Linked DNA regions of Homo sapiens: all the other regions are linked to region 5. The links come from fine-mapping of genetic effects on gene expression. A gene starts in region 5. Each other region holds a variant in brackets. All regions are shown on one strand. Distances are between the middles of the regions. Region 1 holds the start of DPF2 (double PHD fingers 2). Region 2 overlaps POLA2 (DNA polymerase alpha 2, accessory subunit). Region 3 overlaps CAPN1 (calpain 1). Region 4 overlaps POLA2 (DNA polymerase alpha 2, accessory subunit). Region 5 holds the start of TIGD3 (tigger transposable element derived 3). Region 6 has its middle 39 kb from the start of CAPN1.

Region 1 (5,071 bases), 22 kb after region 5:
GGAAGAGTGGGGCTCAGGCCACGACAAAGACAGATGAGAAGCTGTGAGTCCCTTAGAAGAGTTACCGAACCTTTACCTCGTCATCCAGTCAAAATGCAAAAACCCTGACTGGACAGCTAGACACCACTCAATTTTCCCACCCTTGCACCAAGCCCAACATACCCATTAAAAGAAGCTCTATTCGCCCACCATGCATTAACCCAATCTAAAACTCATTCTGATTCTTCTGTAGGAATAAATCAAGTCCCAAAGCATCTTTAACTCACAGGAAGCAGTTCATAGGCCAGCGTCCATGGCCCCAACAGCTATTAACTTTAACTTTGCTTGAAATCTGACCAGCACAATGGTATCGTATAATAGGAAGAATGCCCACCTAGATGCCCCTTTAGGCTAAGCTGTCCTGAACGGCTTCGGTCCAGTTGCAGGTTTTTGATGGCTGCTACTGGACGGGGCCAAGGCCCACTCCCCTGAAGTTCCTTCCCTTCTGGATCCGCTCCTCGATAAATTCTTCCCAAGAATATTTGTAGTCTTAGGTACCTGCCACCCAAGATCCTCCCAAACATCACGGGGCTGCCTGGAACTGAAACAGCCAGCCCCGCAGTGCACTCCGCAGGGGCCGCCGAGCCTGTTGCTGCAGCGAACGGGACGGGACGGGGCGGGGTGGGCGGCGGGCCAGCCGTAGGGCCGCCCGGGCCTCGGCCCCGCTCCTCCGGACTGAGGCGTCTCGGGAGAGGACCGGGACGGTGAGTCTCGCGTGCAGGCAGGGCGCCATGCTCTGGAAACCGTCAGCCCCGAGGAACGCTGAGGCCACACAGCCCCGCAGGGATGCCGCCCGTCGGGGCTCCAGTGTGCCCCCACCAGGGCCTCCACAAGTTTCCAAAGAAGCGCAACGTCTTCTCCGGAGTCTCCTGTTGCCCTCCCCACCAGGAGTCGCAACATGGCTTTCCCGGGGATGTCCCTCTCTCCGCCTAGTCCCTTCCCCCACCGCCCCCTACTCCCAGGCCCTTTACAAAACCTGCCGCCCTAGGAGAGAAAGAAACGACCACTCACAGCTTCACTACATTCTCCACCACAGCCGCCATCTTCCCTGTTCCTCTGCCTCGGGCCGAGAAGCCCCACAGTCCGCAGCGCGCAGGCGCCGGGACCGCACCGGGGTACCAGGTTCCTTGCCCTCTGCGCAGGCGCCGTCCGGGCGCGCGCACTAGAGCGAGCACTGAAGAAAGAGCTTTACGCCTGTTCGCGGGGGCCGGGTAGGAAATGCGTGGACCCCACGGGAGCCCGACGCGCAGGCGCAACCGGAGATTGGCATGCATCCCGGAGCTCCGGTTCGAGGCTTGCCTCTAATATTTAGAGGAGCAGGAGCCGGGGCCGGGCGCGGTGGCTCACGCCTGTAATCCCAGCACTTTGGGAGGCCGAGGCGGGCGGATCACGAGGTCAGGACATGGAGACCATCCTGGCTAACACGGTGAAACCCCGTCTCTACTAAAAATACAAAAAATTAGCCGGGTGTGGTGGCGAGCGCCTGTAGTCCCAGCTACTCGGGAGGCTGAGGCAGGAGAATGGCGTGAACCCGGGAGGCGGAGTTTGCAGTGAGCCGAGATCGCGCCACTGCACTCCAGCCTGGGCGACAGAGCGAGACTCCTTCTCAATAAATAAATAAATAAATAAAGGAAAAAAAGAAAAAGAAAAAAGATTAGCTGGGCATGGTGGTGCATGCCTGTAATCCCAGCTACTAGGGAGGCTGAGGTGGGAGGATCACTTGAGCCCAGGAGTTTGAGGCTCCAGTGAGCCACTGGAGCCACATCACTGCACTCCAGCCTGGGCAACAGAGCGAGGCTCCATCTCAAGAAAAAAAAAAAAAAAAAGGAAAAAAAATATATATACATATATATATACACATATATATATACACATATATACATATATATATATACACATATATATACATATGTATATATATACATATGTATATATATATATATATATATAAATATAATCACTAAAGCTGAAAATACACATACCCTATGACCCAGCAAAGTCCACTCCTGGATATACACACAAGAAAGCTGTACAAGAAGCTGAGTGCAATGCCTCATGCCTGTAATCCCAGCTACTTGAGAGGGTGAGGTGGGAGAATCACTTGAGCCCAGGGGTTCAAGACCAGCCTGGGCAACATAGCAAGATCCTGTCTCTTAAAAAAAAAAAACAAAAAAAAACAGGCCAGGAGCATTGGTTCACGCTTGTAATACCAGCACTTTGGGAGGCCACGGTGGGCGGATCACGAGGTCAGGAGATCGAGACC[G/A]TCCTGGCTAACATGGTGAAACCCCATCTCTACTAAAAATACAAAAACAAAATTAGCCGGGCATGGTGGCGGACGCCTGTAATCCCAGCTACTGGAGAGGCTGAGGTGGGAGAATGGCGTGAACCTGGGAGGCGGAGTTTGCAGTGAGCCAAGATCGCGCCACTGCACTCCAGCCTGGGTGACAGAGCGAGACTCCGTCTCAAAAAAAAAAAAATAAAGCTGTACAAGAATGTTCGTAACAACATTATTTGTTTATATTTATTTATTTATTTATTTTGAGACGGAGTTTTGCTCTTGTCGCTCCTTAACAAATTCTTCCTTCCAGCCCAGGCTAGAGTGCAGTGGCACTATCTCAGCTCACTGCAACCTCCACCTCCTGGGTTCAAGTGATTCTCCTGCCTCAGCTTTCCGAGTAGCTGGGATTACAGGTGCCCCCAGCTAATTTTTGTATTTTTTGTAGAGACAGAGTTTTACCACGTTGGCCAGGTTGGTCTCGAACTCCTGACCTCATGTGTTCCGCCCGCCTAGGCTTTCAAGTGCTGGGATTACAGGCATGAGCTACCACGCCTGGCCAGCTGATGTAACCTTTTCTTAAACAATCCTAAAAGAACTGAAAGCTATTGATGCTGGGTTCATAAGCTGCCTTTCCAATTATATGCAGCTAGCCTATTTATTATTAGTACTATTTTTAAATTCAAACTTTTAATTGAAATATACATAAAGAGAAGCACATAGATCTTATGTAGCTTGACTAATTTTTTTTTTTTTTTTTTTGAGACGGAGTTTCCCTCTTGTTGCCCAGGCTGGAGTGCAATGGCGTGATCTCGGCTCACTGCAACCTCCGCCTTCCGGGTTCATAGCTTGACTAATTTTTTTCAATTTTTTAATTTTTGTGGGTACATCGTAGGTGTATATATTTATGGGTACACGAGATGGTTTGATGCAGGTATACCATGCAAAATAATTGTAGCTTGATTGATCTTTACAAAATAGACAAACCTGTGTAACCACTACCCAGATGAAGAAAAAGACATCACTAGCACCTCAGTAGCCATCTCATGCTTCTAGCCCTAAAGATTAGTGTGTCTGTGTAACTGTATGTCAATGGAATCATACAATATGTCCTATTTTGAATTTGGCTTCTTTTGTTCAATATTAATTTTTTCCTTTTTTTTTTCAGCCCCCACAATGCTTTGTCTACAGTATTACATTTTTGAGATTTTTTTTTTTTTTAAGACAGGGTCTTACTTTGTCATCCAGGCTGAGTGCAGTCGTGTAATCATGGCTCATTGCAGCTTCGACCTCCCAGGCTTAAGTAATTCTCCCACCTCAGCTTCTCGAGTAGCTGAGACTACAGGCACACCACTACACCCTGACTAATCTTTTTTTTTTTTTTTTTAAGACAGCGTCAGCCAGGCATGGTGGCTCATGCCTGTAATCCTAGCACTTTGGTAGGCCGAGGCGGGTGGATCATGAGGTCAGGAGTTCGAGACCAGCCTGACCAACATGGTGAAACCCCGTCTCTACTAAAAATACAAAAAAATTAGCTGGGCGTGGTGGTGTGCGCCTGTAATCTCAGCTACTTGGGAGGCTGAGGCAGAAGCATTGCTTGAACCCAGGAGGCGGAGGTTGTGGTGAGCTGAGATTGTGCCGTTGCACTCCAGCCTGGACAATAGAGCAAAACTCCGTCTCAAAAAAAAAAAGACAGTGTCTCAAAAAAAAAAAAAAAAAATCTCAGTGGCACAATCTTGGCTCACTGCAACCTCTACATCCCTGACTCAAGCAATCCTCCCACCTCAGCCTCTCTGGGACTATAGGCACACGCCACCATGCCCAGCTAATTTTTGATTTTTTTTTTTATAGAGACAGGGTCTCACTATGTTGCCCAGGCTGGCCTTGAGCATTCCTTGCGTTCTGGCCTCCTGAAGTGTTGGGATTACAGGCGCGAACCACCATGCCTGGCTGAGATTCATTCATGTCCTTTTGTGGTAATAGTTCTTACATTGCTGTTTAATCCATATTACTGCTGATGGGCATTTGGGTTATTTCCAGTTTGGAGCTATTACACATAATGCTGTTACGGGCTGGGCGTGGTGTTTCACGCCTGTAATCCCAGCACTTTGGGAGGCTGAGGCTGGCAGATCACTTGAGGCCAGGAGTTCGAGACAAGCCAGGCCAACATGGTGAAACCCAGTCTCTACAAAAAATACAAAAGTTAGCCGGGCGTGGTGGTGGTGCCTGTAATCCCATCTACTTGGGAGGCTAAGGCATGAGAATCGCTTGAACCCAGGAGGTGGAGTTTGCAGTGAGCCAAGATGGCTCCACTGTACTCCAGCCTGGGTGACAGAGCAAGACCCTGTCTCAAAAAAAAAAAAAGAAAGAAAGAAAGACATGTTACGTCGCCGAACAACAGGTACTCTCTCTATATAGAAAACAGTATATATAGTGTTTCTCTGACAGACAGGAATCACGGAGTAGGAATTTTACATGCACATTCTTGGAATCTCAACTCTGCGCTCTGGCTGATTTAGAGCTTTTAAGACCCAAGGGAATAATGCTTCCACCAGGGGGCGCAGTAAGTTTCTCTAAATCACGATCAGATCGTCCGTCAGTAGGCCATATTTCGCTCCACATGCCACTGGGCAAGAAAATAAAAAGCGGGTCCCACTGTTGGCTGGGGCGATCAATTCCAATTGTAAAGCTTAAGATTGCTATTACCCAGTGGGGGCAGGGAGAAAAATCCGAGGAACTCCCCTGGGATGGCTCTTA
Region 2 (5,071 bases), 90 kb after region 5:
GACCTTCAGCAGAAAAGGATACAGCTCTTGAATGGAAACAATGTCTCTAGCTCCTGCATGGCCACTGTCCTTGCAGGTACTATGCCTGGCTTTCGATAATCTTTTGCTCAGAAACTGAAAAAGAAAAGATAGTGAATACAGTACTTCATAGTCAAGTAATAGCAGAGGTGTTTTCAAAAGCCTTGAGATAATAAAAGGTATTCAAAATATAATCAAAGATCTAACATTCCTCAAAGAATTAAGATACACACAGACTAAAAACAAAGACATCCCATGACTGTCTATAACATATAACAATCCTAATAATACCAATTATTTGGTGAAGACTTATCACCTGCTGGGCATAGTTTTAAGTGCTTTATGTCCATTCTCATTTCTTTTTTTTTTGAGATGGAGTCTCGCTCTGTCCCAGGCTGGAGTGCAGTGGCGCAATCTCAGCTCACTGCAACCTCCACCTCCTCGGTTCAAGCGATTCTCCTTCCTCAGCTTTCCGAGTACCTGGGATTACAGGCGCCTGCCACCATGCCCAACTAATTTTTGTATTTTTAGTAGAGACAGGGTTTCACCACGTTGGCCAGGCTGGTCTTGAACTCCTGACCTTGTGATCTGCCTGCCTCGGCCTCCCAAAGTTCTGGGATTATGGGCATGAGCCACGGCGCCCAGCCCCATTTAATTCTTATAACAATCATAAAAAATACAGATTATTAGACCCAATGTCAGAAAAGGAAACTGAGGCTCAGGGACATAGTTTGTCCAAGCTCACACTGGGACTGGAATCCAGGCCTGACTCGAAAGCCCACACTCCTCTCAATATATCACAATGCCTCCCCTGTAGAGCAGAAATGGAGAATCACATTATTAGTTTGCTTTCATTTTGTTCTTACCTCATGCTCAAAAGAGTTCAGGATCTCTGAGGTAAGGCCAACTTTATGTGTGCTGGTGCAGAAGGCTATAAGCTCGCCTACCATTCCCTCCTCATTCTGTCCATACTGAACACAAAGCTCTACCACTGTAGAAAGGAAAATTGGACAAGTAAAAACTTAGTTCATTTCTCGAAGTTTCACCTAGAAAAGCAAAAATAATCCTGGTTTACTCCATCAATGTTTATTCAGAATCTATTAGTGCCAGGCACTGTTTTGGGCAATGAGAAAACAGAAGCATCCTTGTCCTTACAAAGCTCACCACTGAGGGGAGACAAAAGAGGATAAGGGCAGAATCAGGGGGACCAATTAAAGAATCATGGAAAAGCCCAGGTGAGAGATGATGGTGGCTTGGATCAAGGTGGTGGCAGTGGAGATGGCGAGAAGTGGCTGGACTCTGGATAGGACTTTACATGCTGGAAGTGAAGCCAGTGGGATCTGCTAACTGAATGTAAGGTATGAGAAAAAGAAAGTCAAGGATGATGCTGATATTTTTAGCCTGTGCAACAGGAAGAGTGGCGTCCCTATTAACTGAGATGGGGAAAAGAGCCAGAGGAACTACTCTGAGGAGAGAGAGGAGATACCAGGAGCTTAGTTTTAGACATGCAGAGTTTGAGGTGCCATTTAGACATCCAACTGGAGACAGCAGGCTGAACAAACCAGCCTGTAGTTCAGGCAAGGGTTGTGGGCGGAGGTATAAATTTGGGAACCATCAGTAAATACATGGGATATAAAGCTATGAGACCCCAGGTGAGATCGCCAAGGGAGTGAGCGTATCTAGAAGGGAGAAAAGATCCCAGGCTTGAGTCTTGGGGCGCCTTAGGGCCTCTGAGGATGAATCGGCAAAGCCTGAGAAGCGGTGACACAAGCAAAGCTGAAGAAAAACTAGGAGTAAGCCGGATGCAGTGGCTCACGCCTGTAATCCAGTATTTTGTGAGGTTGAGGTGGGCAGACTGTTTGAACCCAGAAGTTTGAGACCAGCTTGGGCAACAGGGTGAAACCGTTTCTATAAAAAATACAACAATTAGGTGGGCTTGGTGGCATGTGCCTGTAGTTACAGCTACTTGGGGGCTGAGGTGGAAGGATTGCTTGAGCCAAGGAGGTTGAGGCTGCAGTGAGCTGTGATTTGCCCATTATACTCCAGCCTGGGCAACAGAGCAAGACCCTGTCTCAGAAAAAAAAGAAAGAAAAACTAGTAGTGTCTAAGAAGCTAAAAGAAAAATGTGTTTAAAAAAAGAAAAAATGACAAACAGTGTCAAGTGCCGGTGCTAATTCAATTCAAGATGAGGACTGAAAATTCATCACTGGTTTTAGCATGGTGAAGGTCACTGGTGACCTTGAGTAGAGCAGCTTTGGTGAAGTGGTGGCAACAAAAGAACTTACTGAAATGGATTTAAGGAGGAAATATTTAAAGATGGCAAGGCCCCCCCCCTTTTTTTTTTGGAGACAGAGTTGCACTCTGTTGCCAGGCTGGAATGCAGTGGCACGATCTCGGCTCATTGCAACCTCCACCTCCCCGATTCAAGCGATTCTCCTGTCTCAGCCTCCCAAGTAGCTGGGACTACAGGCATGCGCCACCATGCCCAGCTAATTTTTGTATTTTAAGTAGAGACCGGGTTTCACCACGTTGGCCAGGATGGTCTCCATCTCTTGACCTTGTGATCCGCCCTCCTCCGCCTCCCAAAGTGCTCGGATTACAGGCGTGAGCCACCGCACC[C/T]GGCCGACCCTTTTGAGGTCTGCTGTAATTGGGAAGGAGAGAACTGGAGTGGGAAGTAGGGTCAACAGAGTATTTTAAAGGCAAGATTGGAAGCACATTTCTATACTAGTAGGAAAAAAATCTTGTAGCAAGGAAAATAGAAAATATGTAAGACAGGAGAATTACCAGTGATGTCCTTAATTGCTTCAGAAGGAATGGGGTTTAGGACTCAAGTGGAGGACTTGGATTTTGCTAGGAATACGGAAAGCTTATTCATTATAATAGGAAAGAAGGCTAGGTATATGCCACAGATATGGGTCAGTGAGACATAATGGTGGTAGCTGATCGAAGTTTTCTAATGCTTCTACATTTTTCAGCAAATAATAGAAATTTGTCAGCTGAGAGTGAGGGTGGGACAGAAGGATGTTACAGGAGAAGGTGGAAAACAATCATCTGGAAGACTCAGAGTAAAGAGACCAGGGGCCTGGCGCAGTGTAATCCCAGCACTTTGGGAGGCCAGGGTGGGCGGATCACCTGAGGTCAGGAGTTGAAGACCAGCCTGGCCAACATGGTGAAACCTTGTCTCTACTGAAAATACAAAAAGTAGAACAGGTGTGGTGGCTCACACCTATAATCCCAGCACTTTGGGAGGCCGAGGTGGGAGGATCACTGGAGGTCAGGGGTTCGAGATCAGCCTGCCCAACATGGCGAAACCCCATCTCTACTAAAAATACAAAAAATTAGCCGGGCGTGGTGGCGGGAGCCTGTAATCCCAGCTACTCGGGAGGCTGAGGCAGGAGAACCGCTTGAACTCGGGAGGCAGAGGTTGCAGTGAGCCAAGATTGCACCATTGCACTCCAGCCTGGGCAATGAGAAACTCCATCTCAAAAAACAAAACAAACAACAACAAAAAAAACAGGGAAATACGGTTGACTGTCAGGAAACATTAAGGTGCCACTGAAGTTACTGATGATCCAAAGTCCACAATTCCAAAGCCATTGCCATGAGATGAAAGCAACTGGCATCTTGGCCTGAAGCCTTTACAAATCTGGTTCACATAACTAATTTCTCTCATGCTGATTTCATGCTTACCACATACATTTCTGACTATGATCAGGTTTTCCACTTAAGTCTTTTTTTTTTTTTTGAGACAGAGTCTCGCTCCTGTTGCCCAGGCTAGAGTGCAATGGTGTGATCTCGGCTCACCACAACCTCTGCCTCTCATGTTCAAGCGATTCTTCCGCCTCAGCCTCCTGAGTAGCTGGGATTACAGGCATGCGCCACCACGCCCGACTAATTTTGTATTTTTAGTAGAGACAGGGTTTCTCCATGTTGGTCAGGCTGGTCTCAAATTCTCGACTTCAGATTATCCACCTGCCTTGGCCTCCCAAAATGCTGGGATTACAGGCGTGAGCCACCACACCTGGCTAGTCTTCTTTTAAAAAGAGAAGGACCGAGCCTGCTGGCTTATGCCTGTAATCCCAGCACTTTGGAAGGCCAAGGTGGGTGGATCACTTGAGGTCAGGAGTTCGAGAGCAGTCTGGCCTACATGGTGAAACCCCTTCTCTACTAAAAGTACAAAAAAAAATTAGTCGGGCCTGGTGGCGGGCGCCTGTAATCCCAGCTACTTGGGAGGCTGAGGCAGGAGAATCGCTTGAACCTGGGAGGCGGAGGCTGAAGTGAGCCGAGATTGCACCACTGCACTCCAGCCTGGGTGATAAAACAAGACTGTCAAAAAAAAAAAAAAAAAAAAAGAGAGAGAGAGAAGGCACTGGGCATGAAGACTTGAAGTATTCTGGTTTCTGAAAGGAATTTCTCACCATAAATTAACGTTTCGTTATCTTTTTGTATATAAGAAGTTCAAAGTGTTGAGTGGTTAAGGCAGGTGCACATTCATACCGATTCTAGAACTTCCACATCTCCCAGGCTTTGCTTCAAATGACTCCTTACACTGCTCTACAGCTTGACCAACACGATGGACCCGTATGATGCAGCACGGGACTCCAAGGCAGGACACCTGGCTTCACAGACAGCTCAGGCAATTAGCTTTCCTTGTCTGTTTCTCCATCTGTAAAGCTCCCTAAAGCTCCTTCCACAGCTCAAATTCAATTTTAGGAACCTACCTCAAGGGATTCATATTTGCACAGACCACCAACAGCTATGATAAAATAACTGATGGATCAGCAGAGGTTTAAGGTGTAGGCTGGAAAGGGAGGAGCCAAGAATAAAAAGCTACATTTCAAAACCCCCACATCTGTTGCTTTGTTACCGGGGCTTCAACAATTTCCAAACTCAGGTGCCACCAGTGCCTAGTCTCTATCTAGCACATCCCAATTCCGCCTTTCGGGAACTTCGAGTTGGTTTAAAATCGTGCTGCATATTCCTATTTTTGATTTGGCATCCAAGCGGTACCCGGTGGGCATTTCAAAGTCCCCACATCCTAAATCTCAAAACT
Region 3 (5,065 bases), 150 kb after region 5:
GTGGGCAGGATTGTTTGTATCATCAGGAAGTACAAGTAAAGTATTTTAGCAATCAAGCCAAAGTCCCAACAGCCACAATTAGTCCAAAGTAAAAAGAAATGAGTGTGAAACAGAAGAGCGAGAAATTGGGTAGAAAGATGGGGCAGGGCAGGGCTTGCTGTAGGCTAGGAGGGTAAGCAGTGCTTCACTAGCAGAGAAGAGGAGGAGAAAAGCTCTGCTTAAGGAAACCGTGTGGATGGAGGTCAGTGGCAGCAAAGGGGAGGGGAGGGGATGAGAGGCCAGCAGTTGTCTGCCCTGGGGAGTGAAGCCAGTCACGTGGTGTTCCCCAAGCCACTCAGCCTGGCCCAGGAGGCTCTGGGAGGAAAGGTAGACTTTTCTTTGGCACTAAGGTGCTGCTCCTGCTTTTTTTTTTGAGACAGGGTCTTGCTCTGTTGCCCAGGCTGGAGTGCACTGATGTGATCACAGCTCACTGCAGCCTTAACCTCCCTGGTCTCAAGCCATCCTCCCAACTCAGCCTCCTGAGTAGCTGGGACTATAGGTGCATGCCACCACGCCCAGCTAATTTTTGTACTTTTTTGCAGAGACAGGGTCTCTCCATATTGTCCAGGCTGGTGTTGAACTCCTGGGCTGAAGCGACTCCTGCCTCGGCCTCCCAGAGTGTTGGGACTACAGGTGTGAGCCACTGTGCCTGGCCAGGCTGCGCTGCTAATCCCACAAAGGCACAGCACCCGAGCACAGGGATTATCAGGATGGCAGGTCAGGAGGAGGAGTATGGGATGGAAATGGCAGGGAACTGGGCTCAGAAAAACTGGAGGATTCCCCGACTCATGCAGACCAAGGGATGAGGTTCAGCTCAATGTGTGAGCAGGAGCCTGGATTCTGATGTGGAAGAAATGGTGGGGTGGTGGGACAGCCCCGCGGGGACTCACGTTTGCTGATGATCCTATTGAGGATTGTCCGCAACTCCTTCACGCTGATCTCCATGTCCTGGGGAGAGAGAGGAGGTGGCACCTGCCCCAGGAGAGGGCTGCCCCTCACAGGCCCCTCCCAACCTGCCATGCCCCAACCTACCTCCCCTGCCAGCTGCCTGAAGAGGGCCTTGAAGTTCTCGTCAATCTCCTCTTCTGAGAGCACTTGCTGGACCGAGAAGGGGAGAAAGCAGGTAAGAGAGGCCCCGGCCCTGCCCGTGTGGAGGCAGCTGGAGGGAGGGCTGAGGTCACATATCTGCTACAAGTCACTTCGCTTCTCTGAGCCTCACTTTTCTTTTCTTTTCTTTTTGAGATGGAGTTTCACTCTGTCACCCAGGCTGGAGTACAGTGGCGTGATCTCAGCTCACTGCAACCTCCGCCTCCCGGGCTCAAGCCATTCTCCCTGCCTCAGCCTCCTGAGTAGCTGGGATTAAAGGTGCCCACCACCATGCCCGGCTAATTTTTGTATTTTTAGTAGAGACGGGGTTTTGCCATGTTGGCCAGGCTGGTCTCAAACTCCCGACCTCAGGTTATCCGCCCGCCTCAACCTCCCAAAGTGCTAGGATTACAGGCGTGAGCCACTGAGCCCGGCTTGAGTCTCACTTTTCTAATCTGAAAAGGGAATCTCGTTCCTGCCCTGCCCTGCCCCGCCCCATATCCAGCACTCATGTGACCTAAATGAAGGGGATGCTGTTCAGCTCAGTGAGTAAAAGGCAAGAGTTTGGGCCAGGTGCGGTGGCTCACACCTGTAATCCTAGCACTTTGTGAGGCCGAGGTGGGTGGATCACTTGAAGTCAGGAGTTTGAAACCAGCCTGACCAAAATGGCAAAACCCCGTCTCTACTAAAAATACAAAAATTAGCCAGGTGTGGTAACGTGCGCCTGTAATCCCAGCTACTCAGGAGGCTGAGGCAGGAGAATCACCTGAACCCAGGAGACGGAGGTTGCAGTGAGCCGAGATCACGCCATTGCACTCCAGCCTGGGTGACAGAGTGAGACTCTCTCAAAAAAAAAAAAAAAAAAAAGGCAAGAGTTTGGATCCCTACTGTATGGCCTCAGGCAAGTTCCCTAACCTCTGTGAACCTGAATTTCCCATTCAGAGGAGGTATGGTAACAAGACCCGGACAGGGTTGATGTGGGGAGGAAATGAGGTAACACAGGTGAAGTGCTCAGCACAAACCCGCCACCGGGTGAGAGCTCAGGGCCTGTGCCATTAGTATCACAGGTCCTCTGCAAACTGTAAAGTGCTGGGCGGATGAGGGATTAGCACTACTCCTATGGCTTCCACCAGGAGGGGATCTTCCCTGTTAGCAGGAACTCAGGGGACAGGACACCTGGGTCCCCATCACACACCCAGGGGTGAGGAAGAGAGGAGGACGGGGCCTGGTGGGGTGGGACCACGCACCTCATCGGGGAGATTGGCCTGGATCTGGTCATCCAGCTCCCTGCAGAGAGTGGGGAGGAAAGGAGCCAGTCAGAGGGGGACAGCAGAGGGCCTGAGAGGGGAGGCTGGGAGAGGGGAGAGTGGCAGGGGCCAGTCCATGACTCACACAGTCCCAGCACTCTTCTCTGAGAAGAAGCGCAGCACGAAGTCGCCCTCCTTGTTGGGCTCGAAGGTGGAGGGCACCACCACATACTCCCCGGGTGGCAGGCGGAAGCGGGTGCTGACCTCTCGCAGGTTGATGAACTGCTCTGAGCGCGCCCGAGACGCATTGGCCAGGAAGAAGTCACGCTTCAAGTGTACGGCCGGCTGGCCCACCAGCTGGTGGGAGGGAGGAGGGAGCAGGGCTGCAGCTGCCCACTCAGCCCACCCTCAGGGGCCACCCCCAGACCCAGACTCCAGGCTCCTTGTCCTGGCCAAGGGGCTGGAGAGCTGGGGCATGGCTCACTCACAGCCTGTGTGACCCTAACAAGACATTTTGC[C/T]TCAGTTTCCTCATCTGTAAAATGTAACAACCCTACTCACTGCAGAGGGTAGAGGAGAGGAGCACCGGATTGCAGATTAGGCATGTGTTTCAATAACACTGTCATTATTATCACTGGGAGCTTTCCCCAGGTCAGGTACTGCAGGGTACTCGGCACCTCATTTGCTGTTCTGCTGTTACACCCATTTTACAGACACAAACACAGGCTCGGAGCTTAAGCAACTGCTCAAGGGTACAGAACTCTCAGCCTGTCTAATGCCCTGCTCCTGACATTGCTGGACCGCCCTAGTTGGCACTTACTTGGTGTAGATGGCAAGGCAGGAAAAGCCTCATGTGTACATGTCAGACAGGGGCTCTGAGGACCAGGGCTCAAATCCAGCTCCCTCACTGACTACCTGTGCTGACCCTCAGGAGAGCAATGTTTGCTCTGCCCACTGAACAGGTGGGGAGAAGCATTTTTCAAGCAGTGAAACAAGGTGACTTCTTAGCTCTCCAGGCCAGGGTGGGTTTGCCACTGGGTTGCTCCCCTCTGGCACCATCAGGGGTGTGTGACTGCAGGTGGGTCATGGTGCCACACCTACCTCCGGAGGGACCTGCAATAGAGAGACAGGGGAAGTCAGAGATGTGTGTTTGTCCCAGGGCGGGGTCACAGTGCATGCTGGGCAGAGGTCTTGAGTTCTTAGACGGGACTGATGGGATAAGGAGGCAGAAGGCAGGGCCCTGGGGACCCAGATCTGGTCCCTGCACCACAGCAGGGCCCCAGGAGGGAGGGCTCAGGCAGGGTCCTCTTGGTCCTGGGAATGCTTGCCCTAGGACTCCATTCTGAGTCAGAGGCTCCAGGCCAGCCCCCGGGGTGGCCAACTGCAATGTTCCAAAGCCCAGGGACAGGAAAGGGCCACCGCAGGCTGCTGCCAGGGGGTTTGGGTGTGGGCCAAGACTGCGACCAGGGAGGTCCAGAAGTTTCTCTCCCTGTCTTGAGGGCAGTGTGTGAAGCAGGGCAGATACAGGGCAAGAGCAAGGAGTTCTAATCCCAGAGCGACTGGCACAGCCTCACCTTGGCCGACAGGCCCTCCCTATCCCCTATCTTTCCCCTGCCAGCTTCTGCTCACAGCTTCCAAGACGGAGGGCTCAGTACTCCCAGGCATCAGCTGAGCCAGCTCCCTCCTCCAAGAGCAGCAGGCCGCCCTCTAAGCGTGAGGTGAATCCCAGAATCTCCCTTCCCTGAGCCAACCCCCTTCCTCTCTTTCGGCCAGAGGGCCTCAGCAGGTGCCTCCTGGAGGCTGAGATTTCCCAGCCCTCAGGATGGTGGGGGGAGTGGAGGGGAATTTGTGGGGAAGGGCATGGTCCCTGGCGCCCCCTGGTGGAAGCCCGCCTGCACTGCGGGTCGGGGGCGCCAGGTCCTCTGCCTGCTCAGTGAGATCCACCGGTGATCCACCCTCCTGACCTCGTAGACCGCGAAGCCAATAGTCTCCATGTCGCGGCCGAAGCGGCGCTCGCGGCGACGGTGCTTCTGCATAAGGGCGAGCACGAAGCTGCAGCCTGACTCGCGGTCCCCGTAGTCGTCCGGGTCATCCGTCTCATCCAGCCGGATCTTGAACTGAGGGTTCACCCAGAAGGTGGCTGCGGGCAGGTGAGGAGGCGGGGATCAGAGGCAGGGCGGGGCAGAGCCAATTGGCCCCCAAGCCTCCTCAGCACGTCCCTGTGCACGCATTCATTCATTCAACAAATATTATTGAGCACCTGGAACATGCAGGGTGATGGGCAGGCTGGGCCAGGCTCGGTCCATGCCCTCACGGCCTGCATTTGGAAACTAGAGGCTTAAGTCTGAGCAAGTCCGTTAGGTTAGCGAGCAGAGCAACTGCAAAAAAAAGCAAGCAGGAGTAGATCAGAGTAGGGGACCTATGCGCTGAGACCCGAAGGGGCTGCCCTGGGAAGCTGCTGAGAAGCAGAAGCCAGGCGGAGGGCACCCCAGAGCAGAGGTGAGGAAGGGCCCCACGCATCTGCGGACAGGGAGCACTTACGGAGGCTCTAGGAAACACGGAGACCCAGGGAGGCCGCAGAGCTCCCAGGAGCCGGCCAGGGACTAGGGCGTGTGGACTGAAGCAAAGGGTAAGAACCCTCCCACAGCTTGCAGCGAGGAGGCATGTGACTGCATTAGGACTCTAAAAGGTGGCTC
Region 4 (5,071 bases), 79 kb after region 5:
TGAGGTCTTCTAATCCTCTGGTTGTAAACACGCCGTACAGAGAGGTCTATTTAAAACAGGCTTTGTTTAATGCACTGAAACTCTGCGGGAACCAGTTTTATGTGGGGCACCATCGCAATTAATGCCATCATTCTTTCTTTTCACAGCCTACAGAAAATGAGCTCAATTAATTATCTCAATCTCCAGTGCCACCTCTACGTGAATAGTTTAGAAGTTACTTTCATACATTACAAAACCAGTTTCTGCTGTCAGCTTTATTAGTGTGCATTAAAAAATGACTAGGCAGCATTTTGCCAGCTTCTCCAAGCTCTTCCCTGGGAAGCTCCATGAGCCATCCATTACAGCAGGCCCTTTAATGCAGCAAGATGCTCACATGAGGACAGTTGTAAACAGATCTACAGGTTTCAGAGCATTGTATTGACATTTGGAGAATATAACTCCTGCAATGGTGCTGGCACGTCTATAAGAACCATCCCTACATACCAGGTTGCAAAGATGCTCTTAAGTCTAGAAAGCTTTCTTCCAAAAAGCCTGAGAACTCCCCAAAGCAGCAGTAGACTACCCTAAAGTAAAACTGTCCTTCAAAATCCAATTACTGCCAGGCATGCTGGCTCATGCCTGTAATCCCAGTACTTTGGGAGGCTAAGGCAGGCAGATTGCTTGAGGCCAGGAGTTCGAGACCAGCTTGAGCAACATGGTAAAACCCCATCTCTACAAAAATTATAAAAATTAGCTGGGCTTGGTAGCATACACCTGTAGTCCCAGCTACTCAGGAGGCTGAGGTAGGAGGATCACCTGAGCCTGGAAGGCCAAGGCTACAGTGAGCTATAGTTGTGCCACTGCACTCCAGCCTGGGCAACAGAGTAAAAGCCTATCTTAAAAAAAAAAAAAAAAGAAAGAAAAGAAAAAAAAAATCCAATGACCACTCACCTTGAATGACTGCAGAGCTTCTATCACCACCTTTCTAAAGTGATAGAGCTGAAAAGGCCGAGAGCAGTGGCACATGCTTGACATCCTACACTTTGGGAGGCCAAGGCGGGTGGATCACCTGAGGTCAGGAGTGCAAGATCAGCCTGGCCAACAGGCGAAACCTCGTCTCTACTAAAAATACAAAAATTAGCCAGGCATGGTGGCGAGCGCCTGTAGACCCAGCTACTCGGGAAGCTGAGGCAGGAGAATCGCTTGAACCGGGAGGCAGAGGCTTCAGTAAGCCAAGATGGTGCCACTGCACTCCAGCCTGGGTGACAGAGTGAGAGTCCATCTCAAAAAAAAAAAAAAAAAAAGTGATAGAGTTGAACAATCTTAAGCTCTGGTTCATCTAGAAGTGATCCAAAGTAGAGGTAATGACTCCTGGCAGTTGGTGTTTCCCTGAAGGGTTAATACTACTGCTCCGGAGCCTCATCTTGATGTGGAAACTCCTAAAAACCCATCTACTCAGCAGAGCACTTGCCTATGGAATTCTCTAATATGAGACGTGTCATTTATGGATTTCAAAAAATTACATATGATCTTTGTGGATTTATGTGCAATGGTGGCAGAGGGACAAAATACCAATTAAGTCAGGGCAGAGTCACAGTGACAAGAAAACTCTCAGAAACTAGTTCTAACCTGACTTGGAAACAATAAACAGGTTATGAAACATTATGAACAAAGATATGTGCTTTTCTTTAAAAAAAAAAACTTTAGATGAAAAGAAAGAAAAAGAAACCCAACAAAACACAAACAGAAGCAGGTGGAAACCTACTTGCCTCTACTGACAAGACCTGTTAAGACTCTTAGACTTCTGAATAGACAGGTTGTTTTCAATACAAGATATCAGTTCCCGATCTAGGAAATGAGCCCTAGAAAAGTGGGTGGAAAGTGAGTTTCCTTAATTACCGTAAGAAACAGTAATTTTCCACAAAGAAAAGGAGAGCAAGGAAGGCAGAGAGCAATAGGCTTTCAAGCCAATTCACTGCAGAGGTACATGCCCACCTATAGTTAATTAATAACTCTGCTGTTAGCCTTCCTCAGATAGCCAGAGAAAGGGGAGGGGAGGCCAGCTTTATGGCACTTGAATGAATTATGATCCATACCTTGGAGAGAAACTTGACGGTGAGAGTAGCTGATGGGGGCTACGAGTTGACACACTCCTTTTTGTTAGGGGGGTTTCTGGGGTAGAGATAGCTCGCTTCTGAGAACCCTAGGGAAAAAAAAGGAAAACAAAATCTCAGTCCTACTAGACCCAATACTAATTAAGTGTATAGTACCTTGGAAGAAAAGGGAGAACATGTCCAAACGAAGGCACAAAATAGGACTGGGTGGGTTCTCTTCTTAAGGCCCCATCATCCAAGCATAATCTCAAAAAGAAATCTTCAACAACTGTAACCAACATTCAGGACACTGTCCCTATTTTGAAGGCAATTACGAGAAAGCAAACATTTTCCAAAAAGGACCACCAGGCTGGTAATGTGTCCTGTCAAATCCTTCATATGTTTACTTTCTGTCCCTACCTCTATGTTTTCAAACAGATATGAGTTTTACAATGCATAGTTTTGATCTATGTGTACACATTTTCCTGAGAAGGAATGGGACATTACTACTTACTTTGGCAAAGTCTACCATACATTTTCAAAGGAAATGACTCCAGGCAGATAACAAGGTTGAGCTCATACTTGAAGAGTTAGCAAACATCTGATGGTCACTCCTTTTTTTTTTTTTTTTTTTTGACTCATCAACAAGAATCCAAAGATAAGCCCAGAACGGAGGCTGAAACCTACAGTCCAGAGAC[C/A]TATTGCTCCCTAAAGTCTAGGATAATCGACTGTAATAGAGAAAACAAAATCCTTGCCTGGATAGCAGCCAGGAAGCCAGCTAGTCTGCAGCTTTCCCTGCCCTAGGGCTCCTCCTGGCTGCAAGTTTAAGAAGTTATATTGCAGAGTGGTCAGCTGGTGGCAACTGCAGGACAGAATGCCAGAGAACAGATTCAAAACCATCAAAACCAGCTGCAATGGAAAATAGATTAAAAAAAAAATCCCTTATTCTACTACCCTGATATAATAACCAGTTTTGAATATTCCTTAATGGTATTTTAATATTTTTCTAGGCCAGGGGTGGTGGCTCATGCCTGTAATCCCAGCACTCTGGGAGGTCAAGGTGGGAGGATCACCTGAGCCCAGGAGTTCAAGACCAGCCTGGGCAACGGCGAGACCTCATGTCTGAGGAGGAAAAAGAAAAGCCAGGCGTGGTGCCTTATAATTTGTATATTAAGATTACAAATACACAAATTAGAATATACAAATTATAGTCATAATCTTAGTTTAAATATAAACCTAAGTATTTTATGTGCTGAATTTTTTCACTCTATATTAATTATCAACATTTTCCCACACTGTTACATTTTTAATCTTTTTTTTTTTTTTGAGATGGAGTCACTGTCACCCACGCTGGGGCACAGTGGCAAGATCTCGGCTCACTACAACCTCTGCCTCCTGGGTTCAAGCGATGCTGCTGCCTCAGCCTCTAGAGTAGCTGGGACTACAGGTGCCCGCCACCACATCCAGCTAATTTTTGTATCTTTAGTAGAGATGGGGTTTTGTCATGTTGGCCAGGCTGGTCTCAAACTCCTGACCTCAATTGATCCACCTGCCTCGGCCTCCCAAAATGCTGGAATTACACCCATGAGCTACTGCACCTGACCCAATCTTTTTCCCTTTTTTTTTTTCCGAGACGGAATTTCACTTCGCTCTTGTTGCCCAGGCTGGAGTGCGATGTGCGATCTCGGCTCACTGCAACCTCAGCTCACTGCAACTCCACCTCCCGTGTTCAAGTGATTCTCTGGCCTCAGCCTCTTGAGTAGCTGGGACTACAGGCATGCACCACCACGCCCAGCTAATTTTGTATTTCTAGTAGAGATGTGAGTTTCGCCATGTTGGTCAGGCTGGTCTCGAACTCCTGATCTCAGGTGATCCACCTGCCTCGGCCTCCCAAAGTGCTGGGATTACAGGTCTTTATCCTTTTTAGTAGCTGTGTTATTTAATTAAACTGACCTACAATGATTTACATAATTACTTCTCTATTGCTGGATTATGGGTTGCTTGTAATTTTCAGTGATTACAAGTAATGCTGAGTCTCAGGTGAAAAGTGATTTGGCAAATTAAGATTTTAAATTAAAAAAATGCTAAAATGCGTATCTTCATGCATACAGCTTTTCCCATAATTTGAATTATTTCTTCAGAAGAGTTTTTTTTTTCCCCCTAGGGAGAATTACTGGGTCAAATGATAGAAAAAGATTTTATGAATTTGGCCAGGGATGGTGGCTCGTGCCTGTAATCCTAGCATTTTAGGAGGCTGAGGCAGGAGGATCACTTGAGCTCAGGAGTTCAAGACCAGCCTGAGCAACATAGTGACACCCTGCCTTTATTTTTTTTATAATTAAAAAAAAAAGATTTTATAATTTTAACACATTTTCTCAAACTATCCCTCCAAAAGATTCTCCTAATATACAGTGGGCTACAACACTCCACGGCCAGTGTTGTGGGGCAGGGATATTTTGAGAGAATGACAGTCTGTCTCGCAAGACGTGGCAAGGTGACAGCACTTTGGTAAACAAGGCACAGTCTGGTGTTCTAGTCCTCAGCCTCAGGGCTGAAATCCAATAGTGTTCACCAACTCCAGTACCAGTTCTCAAGGATGCGCTCCCTTTAACCAAGCTCATACGATTCATTATTAACACTTAATGCCAATTTCATCATGTTTTTTTGTTGTTGTTGTTTTTGTTTTTTGAGACGGAGGGTTGCCCAGGGTGGAGTGTGCAGTGGCATGATCTCAGCTCACTGTAACCTCCGCCTCCTGGGTTCAGGCAATTCTCCTGCCTCAGCCTCCTGAGTAGCTGGGATTACAGGCATGTGCCACCATGCCGGGATAATTTTTGTATTTTTAGTAGAGATGGGGTTTTGCCATTTTGGCCAGGCTGGTCTCGAACTCCTGACCTCAGGTGATCCATCCACCTTGGCCTCCCAAAGTGCTAGGATTACAGGCATAAGCCACTGCGCCTGGCTAGTTTCATCTTTTCTTTTTTTTTTTTGAGATGGAG
Region 5 (5,061 bases):
AGAGAGGAAGGGGCTCTGGCAAGCAGTGAAGGCGCCTTCATAGGCAGCAAAGCCGCTCCACCTCCTCCTCACAGTCGTAGAATTTTTCGAATAGCTCAGGAGAAGTGCTGTTGCATTCAAACCACCTCCTCAAGGTGCCCAGGGCCCGGAGGGCATCAGCTTTGGTGGGCAGGGGCTCAAAGGCACCCTCTCTGTCCCCCTTCTCGTCTTCAGTGCCTATCTCCTCCTTACATACTCCAGACCTTGGCTCCTCACCCTCCAGGTCCACAAAGCGGGAAAACTCCTCCAGGCTCAGCCCGCCGGGGACTGGTGGCATCTCAGAGGTTTTGTGCGAGGACGGGGGCGTTTTGCCGGGAGCCAGCCCTTCTTGAATGAAGCTGCTGAAAATGAGCTGAGGAGGCACCTTGGCCCAGGCGGCAGACGCCACGTGCAGGGCGTCCAGCACGGTGATGCCTGCCCCGGCCTCGGCCAGCGAGGTGCCATCCCTCTCGCTTTGGATGGCAGCCAGTTTGCCCAACAGCCGGTGTCGGTAATGGGCCTTAAAGGCCCGGACCACTGAGCTGGGCAGGGGAGGCGTGGTGCTAGAGGCGGCCAGAGGCAAGAGCTTCACGTGGTAGAGCCCAGGCAGGCCTGCCAGCTCCTCCACCACTCGGGCAGCCAGCAGCAAAGCCACCTGTCGGCCCTGCTGTCCCATGTCCCGGTCAAACTGTGCCAACCACTCTAACCAGGGGATGCCCAGGTCCGGGTGGTAGGAGGCAGGCAGAGCCTCACTGCGGATCCCAAAGAAGCATCTCGGGGCAGCCTGGAGCCCACCCAGCAGTACCCGCCGCTTCTCGGTGCCCCTGCTGTTGGCACACAGCAGCACCTGTACTTGATCACATGCACCAAAGCTGCCGGGCACTGCCCGATACAGCAAGGGCAATTCAGCACAGCCAAACACGTCCTCTGGAGAGAAGTCTTTTAGGGAAAGAGGCAGCTGAGCCTGGGATGTGAGCCCCGGGGGAGGTGGCTCAGGGGGGAATGAAGGCGCAAGAACATGGCGGGCCCCAAAGCCGACGTTGTTTCGGCGTTTCCAGCGGACCAGCCAGCCGATGCTGGGCACGAAGTCCTGGCCCATGATATCGGCCAGCTCCTTGGCTTTGTGGAGCAGCATGGGCCCCGTCACGTCCCAGGCCTTGGCCCGGGCAATGTGGTACCAGCAGAGCAGAGCCTCGTCGATCCCGCTGTACTTGGACTCCCGCTTGCGCTTGCGCTCTCGGTTGGCTGTGCCGCTGCACCAGTCCGCCAGCAGCTTCTCCTTATTCTTGCAGATGCGCGAGATCTGGGGCTGGGAAACCTGGAAGCGCCGGGCCACCTCCGACTGGGACATCTTGGACTCATCCAGGAGTTCCAGCACCTGGATCTTCTCGGCCAGGGACAGGGCGTGAAGCTTCTTCTTGCTGCTCAGCTCCATGGCCTCTCCGGGGCACCTGTGCGGGGAGGAAAGATTGAGCGGGTAGAGTAATCTGAGGCCGGAAGAGCTAGGAAAGGAGCGCAGGAGGGAAAAGAGATTAGATGAGGACTTGCGCAGGCACCGGGTGAGACTGGACCCGCTGAAAGAGGAAGTGGCTAGGCCGAGTGGAAGCCGGCTGGCCCCGTCCCCAGGATGCCAGGGCAGAGCTGGGGAGGGGGCGTCTCTCCACTCAGAAGGACAGGGGAGTCTGGGCTGGGGTCTGGCCTCACTCGGGAAGAAGGATGAAAAGTGCAGGGGACAGCTGCAGAGATAACAAAGGCATACGGACGGGGGAGGGCCTGGGACTGGGGCCGAGGGGGCAGGTGTGGGGCTACGGGGCTGCGGGGGAGGAGCCCCCGGGAGGGAGTGGGAGGCGGCTTGGGCTGGATTCAGATGACGCCGCTGGGGGGTGGGAGGTGGGTGGATGCACACAGAGTTGAGGTGACAGGTGTACAGACGACAAAGGGGACAGAGGGTGTCTGAAGGAGCGAGGCTAATTTGGTGCCGGGTCCTGAGAGGGAGGCTAGGCGACGGTCAGTCCTGAGGGGAGCGAGAGGGCAGGGCCGAGGGCGCAGGTGCACGAGCGACAAAGGGCGGGAGGCCTGAGGAGGCTGCGGGCAGCGGAGGGGCGGGGTGTCCCCGCGGGGAGGGTGGTGGCCTGGGAGGGTCCCAGGGCGCGGGAACGAACGCCCGGACCCAGGCAGGCCGGCAGCCGGACTCCGTGCCCTGGCCGGTCACTCCCCCTCGACCCGGAGTATGTCGGCGGGGCGGCCCCAGGCGCCCGCCCGCCCGGCCTCCCGCTCCGCACCCACCTCAGGCGCTGGTCCCGCGGCTCCAGCCCCTGCCCCCAGCCCGGCTCCCGAGCCCCTGTCCGGGCGGCGACAGCAGAACAGGGGAGGGATGGGCGCCACGACCCCGAGGGCAGAGCGGACCGAGGGCCTGCGCGGACGGCGGGCGGGCGGGCGCGCGCACAGCAGAGTCCCGTGCGCGCCGCCCGCGCCGGGCTCTCTCCCGGCTGCGAAGTCCGCGGTGCGGCCCCTCTGCACCCACCCGCCGCAGCCCCGCCCCGGCCCAAGCAGATTGGTCCTCAGTGGCGCCCCGTCCCTCCCCCGGCTAAGTTTCATTGGACGTTGCGGAAGTGGCGGTTCGTCGAGCCCCTCTGGGGGCGGGGCTTCTAGCGCGGAGGGGCGGGAGGCGGAGCCAGGAACCAGCAGGACTCCCCTGGGCGCCTCCAGCAGCCGCCGACCCCGAGGGCCCGACGAGCCCTGTAGGTGGTGTGGTGACCGCCGAGCTGACTTGGCGTCCCAAAGCCTCCCTGGCCGTGACCCTAGACCGCATCGGCTTCTTCGTCTACCAAGCAGGGCTAACAGCCCTCACGGAATTGTTTTGGGAAAACGATGAAAGGAGAAAATGGATGCAAGCTTTAAGCCACACAAAAGCTGGTTACCATGGACAGCGCTGGCTCGAGTCTGTCGGCCACGGAAACACTGCATGCTTGGGCCAGTAATGATTTAGGACGAGTATTTTATTAGATTTGGTACTTTACAAGATTCAAGTTCTTAAACTCAAGATCTGGCATCGTTCCCTTCCCTGCTAACCTTCAGTCCCGAATTAAACGCAGACGTCTTGACCCGCAGCCCAGCTGCTCTCCAGCCTCGCTGCTCCCTCCGCTCACAGCTCCGCATCCTCTGCCTTCCTCACAGGCTTCCGTCCGCACCCCCGTCCTACCGGCTGACACTGTCCAACTCTCCAAGACCCATCTCAAATCCTACCTCCCGCAAACCCTTCCTAAATTTCCTCACCTAGGCCTGCTACAGCGTTCTTATTTTCCACATTTCTTTTCTGGCTCTCGGACTACTCAGCTGCCAAAGCGCATCCATTGCTGTACTCCCTCTCTGCCTGGCCTACTTCAGTGGAAAAGCATGAGGACGGGCTGCGCTCTGCTCCTCACACAATCCCCAGCCCAGAGCACCCTGCTTATTTATTGAACATAACAGTGCAGGCCGGCCTAGGCTTCCCATAGGCAAGGATGACTTTCAGAATGTTCTAGAAAAAAGGATACTTCAGGGGGCCCATAACTGCTTGATTCAAATCTTTCCTTTAAAAACATAAAAACAACAGTTGGACTTCTAAAACACACACTGAAGACATACGCGCTGCCACGTAAGCTCTCCACATGTTCACTTTGCCTTCAGGGAAACTGTGTGCACATCAACGTGCCCTGGGAAAGGCTGCAGGGCTGCACTGCGGGCAGTTCAGATCCTAGAGCACTTGCTCTGGCCTGGGAGCGCTGCAGGCAACTGAAGCCACACAGACCCTGCTCCTGCAAGAACTTTTGTGTGTGTCCCATGGTGATGTCATTAGTTTGCTTATTAATTATATTTATATAAACTTCTGGTCCTGTTTTAAATGTCTGAGATTGCAAGGTCAACTGTTATAAACCTGTCATCACTTCCATCTATGTATCCAAGACTAGGAGAATTCTCCAAATCAACTGAAACATAAAAATAGATGTTAAAGTTGATTTTAACCCAAATTTTGTATTGATCAAAACAGCTTCATTGTTCTTTATAACAAAGAATTGTTATAAACTTGAATTTATGTAACAAAACAAAATAACCAATTTTATATTCGCTTTACATATTGGGGTTCCACAAAAAAATTTTAATTTGGGGGGAAAAAAGCTGTATTTCAAAACATTAAAAAAAAAAACCACCATCATGGAAATCTTAGGATGAAATGGCCTTCTTAATGGAGAAAGGCAGGAGATAAACCATCCAGCAGAGGGCTCTGTGTAAAAACATTTATTTTTACTAATGTTTAGAATACAGGAACTAAAGAAAGAAAAAAAAAAGACACCTCAACTCCAAAGCGACAGTGAGTTAGGGCCTGCCCACGGCCAAGGGGGAAGGCTACTCCAGGGTGTCCTGGCATGGACTGTCCCCCCACTACTTAATGTCAGTGCCACTAAGCAGAAAACTTGAGGAATCAGGGTGTGAAGACCTTACCAGCTGCTAGCGAGCGTGCAAGGGAAGAAAGGGATGTCTATGTGGCTTCCCCATGAGCTGAGAGCCAGGATACACGGGGCAGGTGGCAGAGGCTCCCAATTCAGTTAAGAGCAGGAGGCTGAATGCCCAGGTCCAGGAAGAACAAAAAGGGGATTTTGGAGGTAGGCTTTTTTGTTGTGTTAAAAAACAGGCACATTATCCATCTCCTTGTGGCCCCCGAGCTGCTGGCCTGGCCCCCTGATCCTTCCCCTCTCCCCACAAAACCAAAAGGAGTAGGAAGGGAGGCAGAAGATGAGAAATTCCAAGGGTGGGGAATGCTTCAGTCACTGGAGACCGACCGTAAGAGTGAGCCAGGAGAGCAATGGGAATAACAAGGTGAAGCTACTGTTCCCCCTGGGGTGGGGTGGAATGGGACAGGGCAGAACCAGGAGGGTGACCGAGAACATCCTGACTCCAGAAAAGAACACTCTGTAGCAGGAACACAGGGCCGCAGAGAGCCACTCTGGAGGAAAGAGGTGAGGCTATGCGGCACAGGGGCATGAAAAGCTCCTTGTGGACGTG
Region 6 (5,071 bases), 130 kb after region 5:
ACTCGCTTTGGATGTAGGAGCTCATCACCTAGGTAAGAAGACTCTGCTCAGGGAAAGCGAGGGAGCTCGGACCCCACATCCCTGCTGGGAACCCCTTCGTCTGTGTGGAGGAGAGCTGGGGTTGAGGTCTTTGGTGAGGTGGCTGGCCCTTGTCTCCGCTCCGTCCAAGGACTGATGGCACTTGAGGGGTGTTGAGAAGTGCCAACACACTGTTTCCAGGGTGTTGAGAAGCTCCAACACGAACTCCAACACTACTGAGGTTCTGCGGTTCTGGAGGGCCTCCCACCCCATTCCTGGTATAGACTCGGAGATTGAGTCAGATAAGAGCAGGGGTTCCAAGTGGTTCTGCCACTTCCTACTGTGTGTTCTCAGGCAAGTTACCCGTCCTGTCCCCACTTCAATTTCCTCTTTGTCAAAAATGAGACATGAAATGAGATTACATACATAAAGCTCTCAGCCTAGTGCCCGGCATGGGGCTTGAGAAATGATGCTTATTGATAATAAATGGTAACTATCTTATAATAAATGGTATTTATAATGGTGCTTTTGTTATTGATTCCCCAGTAATTTTACTGTGTGGTTGCTATTTTAATAATTTTAGTTTATTATTTTATTAAAATTTCAACTGGATGTCAAGGTTAATAGGGTTATTTCCTAATTACAAAGGTGGATTGACTGATGAGCAAAGCAGTTAAATTATTTATCCTAAATCACACAATCATTCAATACCTAAACAACATCTTTCGCACATGAGAACTCTGCCTGTCCTGTTTATTCCCAATGTCTACACCTGGATGGCACGTGAGTCCTGGGAAGTTGCTAAATTCTAGTACAACTGGAGGTTGCCAGCAAGACTGAAGACTGTTCCCACCCTTCCTTCCTCCCAGCTCGCTTACCTCCTTGGTCAGCCTTTCCCCTTCCTCCTTCCTCCCGTTCATTGCAGCCACCTTCTGCAGATTCTGTACAGCTAACTGGGACTTGCCATGCAGGAGGAGCCAGCGGGATGACTCTGGAAGCCACCTGGGACCGAGAGGAGGAAGAAGGATCTGGGGCTGGGTAGAGCTCATTCTATTCCCCAAACCCAATACCCCCTTGTCTACCTTCTTTCAGACCCAAAAAAGATGACCTGTCCTCCTGTCTGTAGCATCAGGAAGTCTGGGGGCCATGCCAGCTTCCCTTTTTTTGCAGTACATCATACAGAGACTCACTGAACAGTATTTAAAGACTACAGAGGACTTGGCCAGGCACGGTGGCTCACGCCTGTAATCCCAGCACTTTGGGAGGCCCAGGAGGGTGGATCACCTGAGGTCAGGAGTTTGAGACCAGCCTGGCCAACATAATGAAACCCCATCTCTACTAAAAATACAAAACAACTAGCCGGGCATGGTGGTGTGTGCCTGTAATCACAGCTACTCAGGAGGAGGCTGAGACAGGAGAATCGCTTGAACCTGGGAGGTGGAGGTTGCAGAGCCGAGATCGCGCCACTGCACTCCAGCCTGGGTAACAGAGGGAAACTCCATCTCAAAACAAAAAAAAAACCAAAAAAAAAAAAACAAAACTACAGAGGACTTAGGATTTCAACAGACCCGTGGCATTTTTTTTTTTTTTTTTTTTTTGGACCAAGTCTCACTCTGTCGCCCAGGCTGGAGCACAGTGGAGCAATCTCGGCTCATTGCAACTTCTGCCTCCCAGATTCAAGTGATTCGCCTACCTCAGCCTCCCGAGTAGCTGGGATTACAAGCACCCACCACCATGCCTGGCTAATTTTATTTTATTTATTTAATTATTTTTTTTGTAGAGATGGGGTTTCACCATGTTGGCCAGGCTGGTCTCGAACTCCTGACCTCAAGTGATCTGCCCACCTCAGCCTCCCAAAGTGCTGGGATTACAGACGTGAGCCACCACACCTATCCCAGACCCGGTTTTGAATCTGGTTCTGACCCCAGCTGTGTGGCCTTGTGTGAGTCATGGGCCCTCTCTGGGCTGTGCTTCATTACCCTCTTATATATGCCCCAGTTATATTCTTATAACTTTATAAGCACTTAGAGTACTTATGAAGTGTTGAGGGATGCGAAGGAGTTGATGAAGGCAAAAGCTCTTGGGACGTTCCAGGGCCCCACACTAATGCAAGGGATTTTACCAGAGCGTCCCAGTAGCCATTCGTGAGGACTTGAGAGCTTGCAGCCTCCATGAACGCCTGCCATCCTTTGTGTCCCCTGTCAAGTCCAGCAAGCCCCGGTCACTGCACACCCCAACCTCTCACAGGGCCAGGTGAAGACTCGGCCACACAGGTGCACCCTCCCCCACCCCACTCTGTTCAGGACATACCAAGAATAGAGGAAAAAGATCAGGAAAGGAGCAGAGATGGCAAACTGCAGGCACCGCCAGGGGCGAATCAGGTAGGCTACCCCAGCCAGGATGAGCTGGCCCAGGGTGAAGGAATACCCCAGCAAAATACCCGCCACAGTCCGGCCCCGTGTGGGCATCCACTCCACAACTGGGGAGAAAACAGTGACATTCAGCGGCATTCAGCTACCCATGTGGTTAATTCACCACACCCCCCCTTATGATTCTGACCACTTAAACTCATTCCAGAGACCCTCTGAGACACAGGCAAAGGTGTCCCTACTGCACTCCAGATAAATTCTAAGTGGATCAAAGAACTCAATAAACAATAAAACCACAACAATGCCAGAAGAAATCATGGTAGATTATTTTATAATCTTAGAGTAGGGAAAGGCTTTTCCAAGAAAGTCACAAAACCCAGAGGCAATAAAAGGGGAGGTTGACAAACTTGGAGTCGTAAAAATAAAAAATGTCCGCATTGGAATAAAACAAAACAAAACACCGTAAGTCAAGCCATAACGTCAACAAAAAATGTAAAAATATAGTTGTAACCCAACTAGCAGATAAAGGACTAATTTTGGGCTGGGCG[C/T]GGGGGCTCACTCCTGTAATCCCAGCACGTTGGGAGGCTGAGTCGGGCGGGTCACTTGAGTCAGGTGTTTGAGACAAGCCTGGACAACATGGCGAAACCCCGTCTCTACTAAAAATACAAAAATTAGCCGGGCATGGTGTTGTGTGCCTGTAATCCCAGCTACTCGAGTGGCTGAGGCACAAGAATCGCTTGAACCTGGGAGGCGAAGGTTGCAGTGAGCTGAAATGAATTGGACCACTACACTCCAGCCTGGGCGACAGAGCTAAAGACTCTGTCTCAAAAAATAAAAAAAGAAAGAAAGAAGAAAGAAAGACTAATTTCCCTAATACTGAAAGAGTTTTCACAAATCAATTAGAAAACGGCCAACAAGCTAAAAGGAAAATGGGCAGAGGTGCTCAACCCCATGCAAAGACAGAAAATACTAATTTTTATAAATAGCAAAACTTGGAACAACCTGAATGTCCATCTGTAGGGGACTGGTTAAGTAATGATGACACACCCTTACGAGGCAGCTGTAACAAATTAATGAGGAAGCTTCTTCCCAATGGGCAAGAAGCCTGTGCGTCCAGTCCTTCAGCAAATCCTTCAGAATTAAGCCAGAATCTAAGCTCTCCTCACTGCCTCTGCTGCTGCCACCGTGGCCCAGTTCAACCTGGTCTCTTGCTTGATGACAGCAGCAGCCCCTTAACCGGCCTCCCTGCTTCCGTCCTGGTGTCACATGGCAGCCACATAGATCTTATCAGATCTCAAATCCTAAATCAGATCAGGTCTCTCCCTGGTCAAAATCCTCCGGTGGCTCTTGTCTCATTCAGAGACAAAGCTGAAGTCCTAGAACGCTGGACACAGGGTCCTGCAGAACTGCCCTCCCCGACCTCACCTGTCGCCCACCTCCCAACTCTGCTTCAGCCACAGGGCCCTCCTTGCTCTTCACCCTGGGCACACTTTCCCCTGCAGGGCCTCTGCCTGGCAGTTCCCTCTGCCTGGAATGTTCTACCCCAGAAACCTGCAGGGCTCATTCCCTCAACTCCTTCCAGTTTTGCTCAAAATGACCCCTTTTCAGTGAGTCTTTCCCAAACCACGCTAATTAAAACTGCAGACCCCTCCCCTCCAACCTGGCCATTCTTTGTGGGATTTTTTGTTTGTTTGTTTTGTTGAGGCAGAATCTCACTCCATCACCCAGGCTGGAGTGCAGTGGTGCGATCTCGGCTCACAGCAACCTCCACCTCCCGGGTCAAGCAATTCTCTTGCCTCAGCCTCCCGAGTAGCTGGGATTACAGGCGCCCGCCACCATGCTCGGGCTAATTGTATTTGTAGTAGAGACAGGGTTTCACCATGTTGGCCAGGCTGGTCTCAAACTCCTGACCTCAGGCGATCTGCCCGCCTTGGCCTCCCAAAGTGCTGGGATTACAGGCATGAGTCACTGCGCCTGGCCAACCCGGCCATTCTTATCCCCTTTCCAGGCTTCGGTTTTCCTCTGTAGCACTTACTGTCTTCGAACATACTATACGATTCGTTATGCATGCTGGTGATATCTCGCCTCGCTAGAACATGGACTCCAAGGAGCAGGGCTGTGTTCACCGCAACCTCTAGAGCCTCTCCTGGCACTAGGAGGCTCTCTATCAGGCAGTGGACCAGTGACAGCTTGGTTAAGTGAAAGAATCAAGATACAGAACAGTGTGCGCAGGAACAAACATGAGGGGAGGCATATATGTATGGAGGGTCACCACACTTGTGCGGTGGGACCCGAGGCAGGGCATGGCCTGTGGTGGGAGCTCCAGGGCACTCGATGGAATCTCTACAAAGTCGTCTTTACAGGCGGAGATGTCCCCAGACAGTGCCCGGCCTCTCCAGCCTCAGGAAGTGTTAAGAGGCTGGGCAGTCTCTGATGCGTGTGTATGTGTGTCTGTATGTGTCTGTGTGTGTCTGTATGTGTCTGTGTAGGTGTTAGAGCCCATTCCAGCACGAGGTGGACCTCAGACACCTGTTTCAAGCCATGGCTGGATGCCCACCCTGCAGAGTGAGCTGTGTAGGCTGGGATTGGCTGAGATCCCGCTGTGTGCTGGGAGAGGGAGGGGAGGTCAGGTGTCCTGGTTCTCTGGTCCCAAGATTTCTTCCTGACCCCTGATATAAAAGATC

Evidence for each region.
Region 1: its variant is fine-mapped to the expression of TIGD3 in whole blood (TOPMed, PIP above 0.99).
Region 2: its variant is fine-mapped to the expression of TIGD3 in whole blood (TOPMed, PIP 0.99).
Region 3: its variant is fine-mapped to the expression of TIGD3 in whole blood (INTERVAL, PIP above 0.99).
Region 4: its variant is fine-mapped to the expression of TIGD3 in whole blood (INTERVAL, PIP above 0.99).
Region 6: its variant is fine-mapped to the expression of TIGD3 in whole blood (INTERVAL, PIP 0.94).

Annotation. Positions count from the first base shown.
Region 1 is chr11:65,329,898-65,334,968 of GRCh38, reverse strand. It overlaps DPF2 (double PHD fingers 2), which reads right to left and starts at 1,117. Exons shown (of 11, transcript NM_006268.5): 1 at 1,051-1,117. The coding sequence starts at 1,082. RefSeq lists a silencer at 676-765 and an enhancer at 816-865. The variant G/A (reference allele first, on the strand shown) is at 2,303.
Region 2 is chr11:65,262,520-65,267,590 of GRCh38, reverse strand. POLA2 (DNA polymerase alpha 2, accessory subunit) reads right to left here. Exons shown (of 18, transcript NM_002689.4): 2 at 885-1,009; 3 at 23-114. Among named protein-coding and RNA genes, the nearest start is that of POLA2, 3.1 kb to the right of the region's middle. RefSeq lists an enhancer at 4,718-5,071. The variant C/T (reference allele first, on the strand shown) is at 2,638.
Region 3 is chr11:65,204,127-65,209,191 of GRCh38, reverse strand. CAPN1 (calpain 1) reads right to left here. Exons shown (of 22, transcript NM_005186.4): 11 at 4,334-4,509; 12 at 3,471-3,482; 13 at 2,518-2,729; 14 at 2,373-2,412; 15 at 1,072-1,137; 16 at 930-987. Among named protein-coding and RNA genes, the nearest start is that of CAPN1, 25 kb to the right of the region's middle. RefSeq lists enhancers at 4,013-4,202, 4,244-5,065. The variant C/T (reference allele first, on the strand shown) is at 2,891.
Region 4 is chr11:65,273,003-65,278,073 of GRCh38, reverse strand. It overlaps POLA2 (DNA polymerase alpha 2, accessory subunit), which reads right to left. Exons shown (of 18, transcript NM_002689.4): 5 at 2,076-2,182. Among named protein-coding and RNA genes, the nearest start is that of POLA2, 14 kb to the right of the region's middle. The variant C/A (reference allele first, on the strand shown) is at 2,771.
Region 5 is chr11:65,352,201-65,357,261 of GRCh38, reverse strand. It overlaps TIGD3 (tigger transposable element derived 3), which reads right to left and starts at 2,511. Exons shown (of 2, transcript NM_145719.3): 1 at 2,305-2,511; 2 at 1-1,469. The coding sequence starts at 1,453. The coding sequence ends at 38. It overlaps DPF2 (double PHD fingers 2), which reads right to left. Exons shown (of 11, transcript NM_006268.5): 11 at 3,000-5,061. RefSeq lists silencers at 1,804-1,993, 2,054-2,223, 2,234-2,293, 2,314-2,633, 2,724-2,783.
Region 6 is chr11:65,218,422-65,223,492 of GRCh38, reverse strand. It overlaps the pseudogene SLC22A20P. Among named protein-coding and RNA genes, the nearest start is that of CAPN1, 39 kb to the right of the region's middle. RefSeq lists a silencer at 1,498-1,727. The variant C/T (reference allele first, on the strand shown) is at 2,936.